2 separate regions of the Homo sapiens genome follow, and region 1 is linked to region 2. Evidence: fine-mapped expression QTL. A gene starts in region 2. The other region holds a variant in brackets. All regions are shown on one strand. Distances are between the middles of the regions. Region 1 overlaps GCKR (glucokinase regulator). Region 2 holds the start of GCKR (glucokinase regulator).

What was found.
Region 1: its variant is fine-mapped to the expression of GCKR in thyroid (GTEx, PIP 0.95).

What each region holds. Positions count from the first base shown.
Region 1 is chr2:27,519,057-27,522,073 of GRCh38, forward strand. The region is part of intron 17 of GCKR (glucokinase regulator); the gene reads left to right. Among named protein-coding and RNA genes, the nearest start is that of SPATA31H1, 17 kb to the right of the region's middle. The variant A/G (reference allele first, on the strand shown) is at 1,292.
Region 2 is chr2:27,495,478-27,497,977 of GRCh38, forward strand. GCKR (glucokinase regulator) reads left to right here and starts at 1,362. Exons shown (of 19, transcript NM_001486.4): 1 at 1,362-1,487; 2 at 1,767-1,922; 3 at 2,085-2,153. The coding sequence starts at 1,428.

The DNA.
Region 1 (3,017 bases), 24 kb after region 2:
TTCTGCTCCTCCTATTAGGTGCATCTTCCCCTTAAGGAGTGTGTGTGCACACATGGGTGTGTTTGTGAAATTGTAATTATTAGGCAAGACTCTTTCAGTTACAAACGTGATGGAAAACGAGTTTATACTGGTTTAAGCTAAACAAAGAAAATGGTGGCTGATATAACTGAACAATCTTAGGGCAGCTGAATCTAATGTGTTCCAGAACTTTCCACCCTTAACTCTGTTTTCCCCTGTGTTGCTCTCATTCTTTTTTTTTTTTTGAGATGGGGTCTTGCTCTATCGCCCAGGCTGGAGTATAGCGGTGCTATTTCAGCTCAGTGCAACCTCCGCCTCTGAGGTTCCATTGATTCTCCTGCCTCAGCCTCCCGAGTAGCTGGGATTACAGGCACCCCCCACCATGCCCAGCTAATTTTATATTTTTTAGCAGAGACAGGGTTTTGCCATGTTGGCCAGGCTGGTCTCGAACTCCTGACCTCAGGTGATCCACCTGCCTCAGCCTCCTAAAGTGCTGGGATTACAGGCGTGAGTCACTGCACCCGGCCGTTGCTCTCATTCTTAGGCAAGTTTTTTCCATTAGGTGGCAAACTGGCCACCAGTAGTGCCAGCCTGACAATTTACGTAGCAACACTAGTGGGCAAAGAGCTTGCCTGTCCTGTGGTTCTTGCAAATGCCTGGTTGGGGGCTCTTGCTTGGGACACATGCATGTCCCTGAAGCAATCACTGTTCTCCAGAGCAAGGGATGCTCTGCCCAGTCTGGATCATGTGCTTTCCCTTCAGGATGGTGGTGGAAGAAGGGCTGGGAGGTGAGCCTCAATCCAACCTCATTACCTGAGCATGGGGAAGCGATAGATCCTCAGAGGAAAACCAAGGTGCTGATACCAGAAGGAGTGGATGTTGAGCAGACGGCACAACAGATGGTCATGAAAATGGGGTCGCCAGATTCGGCAAATAAAAATACAGGACGCCCAGTTAAATTTGAATTTCAGATAAATATGGAATAATTTTTCCATCAAGTATGCCCTATGCAATATTTGAGATATTTTTGATTTTTTTCATTATATATTTGGATGTCCTGTATTTTTATTCACAAAATCTGGCAACCCTATGTGAAAGGAATCAATCAATGAACATTTAGTGAGCACCCACCAGGTCCCCAAAATAAACTATGGTCCTTACTGAAGTCCAGTGGAGGTATAAAGAAGGTGGGGGTCAGAATGCATTATAGCAAAAAGAAGGCCTCATGGAAGGGGTGGTATTTTGAGCTAGGCCTGGTGGTTATGGCTTGGAT[A/G]GGTGGACAGAAGAGCATTCCTGTTAGGTCATTCACCAAGTCCCAGAAGGGGGACTGGGCATGATATGTGAGGGACACAGGTCTAACCAGAGTGGCAAGTCACTTTAGAGCGCAGTGAGGGATTGTGAAGAAGTAGGAAGGGGAGGGATGTGGGAGGTTAAAGCCAGGCAGGAATTTGGACTTTGCCAAATGCAGCTAGACCTGCGCTGTCCAAAACATTGGCCACCAGCCACATGTGGCTATTGAGCACTTGAAATGTGGCTAATGTGACTGAGGAACTGAATTTTTAATTTTATGTAAAAACCAAAGCTGTATACTTTTTAAATTAAATGTAACTTTAATATTTTGGTAGGACTACATTTCTCTTTTTAGCATTGCAAATCTAGCACCCAAATTGAGGTGGGCTGGCTGGGCACGGTGGCTCACGCCTGTAATCCCAGCATTCTGGGAGGCCGAAGCAGGCAGATCACTTGAGGTCAGGAGTTCGAGACCAGCCTGGCCAACATGGTGAAACCCCGTCTCTACTAAAAATAAAAAAAATAAAAAAATAGCCGGGCATGTTGGCACAGGCCTATAGTCCTGTCTACTAGGGAGGCTGAGGCAGGAGAATAGCTTGAATCTGGGAGGTGGAGGTTTCAGTGAGCCAAGATAGTGCCACTGCACTCCAGCCTAGGTGACAGAGTGAGACTATCTCTCAAAAAATAAAATTAAAATTAAAAAAAGCCACAAAAAAACAAATTGAGGTGTGCTCTAGTTGCAAAATACACACTGGATTTCAAAATACAAAATCCGAATATAGAAAAATATTGCAAAATATCTGACTAATAATGTTTAATATTGTTTACATTGGGTTATATATTGGGTTAAATAAAATATATTATTAAAATTGATTTCAGGCCAGGTGTGGTGGCTTACACCTGTAATCCCAGCACTTTGGGAGGCCAAAGCGGGCAGATCACAAGGTCAGGAGAAATAGGTGAAATCACATTTTTTTTTTTTTTGAGATGGAGTCTCACTCTGTCACCCAGGCTGGAGTGCAGTGGCATGATCTCGGCTCACTGCAACCTCCACCTCCTGGGTTCAAGTGATCCTCCTGCCTCAGCCTCCTGAGTAGCTGGGATTACAGGCATGCGCCACCACACCCAGCTAATTTTTTTTTTTTTTTTTGTATTTTTAGTAGAGACGGGATTTCACCATATTGGCCAGGCTGGTCTCCAACTCCTGACCTTGTGATCCACCTGCCTCAGCCTCTCAAAGTGCTGGGATTACAGGTGTGAGCTGCTGTGCCTGGCCAATTTCACCTATTTCTTTTTTTAATGCAGCTACTGAAAACTTAAACTTACATATGTGGTTTGCATTATATTTTTTTCTTTATTTTTATTTTTTTTAGAGACAGGGTCTCACGCTGTTACCCAGGCTGGAGGGCAGTGCATTGGCACCATCCGGCTCACTACAGCCTCAAACTCCTGAGCTCAGGCAATCCTCCCACCTCAGCCTCCTGAGTAGCTGGGACGATAGGCAGGTGCCACCATGCCCAGCTAATTTGTTTTATTTTTTGTAGAGATGGGGTCTTGCTGTGTTGCCTAGGCTGGTCTCGAACTCCTGGGCTCAAGTAATCCTCCTGTTTTGACCTCCCAAAGTGCTGGGATTACAGGTGTGACCCACTGTGCCCAGCCTTGCATTATATTTCTACTGGACAATGCTGAGCTAGACAGAGAGGAGGGTA
Region 2 (2,500 bases):
GCCAAGTTGGGAAGAGGAATTCCACCTCCAGTGCCCGAGGGGCTAACAGGAGAGGGGAGAGAGTGAGGGAGATAATAATTGCTTTAACAATCCCTTACTTGTAGACTGCGTCAGCTTTTAAGTCTCTTTTCCATTCATAATCTCATTTAATTCCGTTCGCTTTCTCATTCATTCTTTCATTTATTCACCAAATATTTATTGAGCATCTCCTATGTGTCTGGCATTATATTAAAACCTGGAGATACAGTGATTGTTAAGAGTGTTGGGCTTCTCGGGAGAATCAAAGCGCAAAGACCTATGGCTTTTTTAAAAAAATTATTATTCCTTTCTTTTCTTTTTTTGTTTTTCTAAAGCTCTACCACTTACGGTGTGGTTTTGGAGAAACTGGTTTATCTGTGCTTCAGGTTTCCCACCTGTAAAGCAAAGCGTGTGAAATCTCACAGGGTTGTTGTGAGGCTCAAATGAGACGGGAAAGATCTTTATAAATCTCACAACACTATGTGACTGGATGATGGAGATTAATTTGCACCAATCTGTTAGTTACTTCTTTGTTCAATAACATGTAAGCCCTTACATTATATCATGCTTTGGTTGAGCTTGAAATCTGAATTGAGAACCTGGGTGTGAGTCCCAATTTGTCCAGCTGTGTGATCTTAAGCAACCAACTAAACTACTCTGAGCCTGTTTCATCATCTGAAAAATGAGGGTGTCAATATTGACCAACATCTTAGTGTTGGTGTATCCAATGAGATACTGTCTGTGAAAAGTGTGTTGTTCAGTGTAAATAAATGTTGGCTAACATTGTATTTAGGGCAGATTCTTTGGTTTCTAATTCTCAATGCAGTATTTCTGTTTCTGTGGGATTTTTCCCGCTGTAATATCCAGTACAGTGTGTGCACACTTGGGGCTCAGAAGCTTCTACTGCCTTCCTTTCTGAGAGGAGAGGATAAAATGGGACCAGTGGGACTGACTGTGTGTGCTGAGCATGTGATCAAGCCATGGGCCAGGTCCTCTGACTTGTGCTGACTTGGTGACCCTGATCTCTGGCCTCGGAGGACACTTGCCCAGGGATTCTCACTGCCGTGGGTGTTGTCCTGCACTCCCAGGCTCCAGGTCCTCTGTAGAAGAGGGCATTGTCCCGGTAGGGCAAGAGTCCCGAGCCTCAGGTCTTCCTCTTCAGGGGCCAAAGCAGAGGCTGGCGAGTCAGGGTGCTTGCAAAGAGGAAGCCCAGGAGTTTCCCTGGGGTTACCAGAGGGCTGGGGGCCTAGTGACCAGGAAAGGGTGGTGCTCTGAGAGCCCAGGGTGCTTGGGTTAATCATCACTGGGGCTCAGATAAGGCCCTGCCAACTGGAAGCAGAGTCATTGTGACCAGAGGGGTTTGTGTGGCTGAAGAGGCAGGAGGAACAGTGTATCCACAGCGTGGGACCATGCCAGGCACAAAACGGTTTCAACATGTCATTGAGACCCCGGAGCCTGGCAAGTGGGAGGTGAGACCCCTTCTTCATGTTGGCTTTCTGTGCTGATTCCTAGAATTATTTTTCATCCAGTCTTCCCTCCCCGCTGGTTTCTGCTCACCTCTTCTTCCTTCCTGATGTTCTTTCCCTAATATGCCCAGAGCACCAAGTGCAGGCTGAGTTTCTGGTGTGGTATGTGTGTGCGTGTGTGTAAGTCCAAACTCTGTGCCTGCTGCCACTCCCACCTCCAGCTCAGCAGGCATGAATGAGGCTTTGGCTTCCTGCTCCATCCTTGTCCCCTCTTCCTTCTAGTTGTCTGGGTACGAGGCAGCTGTGCCAATCACGGAGAAGTCAAACCCACTGACCCAGGATCTAGACAAAGCAGATGCTGAGAACATTGTTCGACTGCTAGGGCAATGTGATGCTGAGATCTTCCAGGAGGAGGGGCAAGCCCTGTCCACATACCAGGTAACCAAGACCCAAGACCTGGACCCTGGAAATAAACATGCCAACCCCAACCCCACCTCTGCTCTCCCTCACCATGGCTCCTAATATCGGAAACCCTGAGACCCCCTCCCCCATTCATCGTCCTCCTTTTCTTGGCTTCTCATTCCTGCATATTCCCTACAGAGACTCTACAGCGAATCCATTCTGACCACCATGGTACAGGTGGCTGGGAAAGTTCAGGAAGTGCTGAAGGTACTAACCTTCCTTCTGTTCCCTGCCTAAACTTTTCTGTTTCCCTCTTTCTCTTTTTACTGTCTCTATTTCTCACTTTGATAGATCTCATTCTCCTTTCTCCCTTTTGGAGATCCTCCCTTTTGGATCCTTATTTTCATCTTATTAATAAATAATAATGATAACTTCTCTGCTTAATACTTTATAATTGACAATCTACTTTCACACCTATTACCCTCACAAAAGCCTGTGAAGTTGATATGACTTCTGTTTGTTTTCCTCAGATGAAAAAACAAAGATTTAGAAAGGATAATCACTGTAGCTTGCTCAAATACACTGAGCTAATAATTGCTGGATAATGCTGCTTT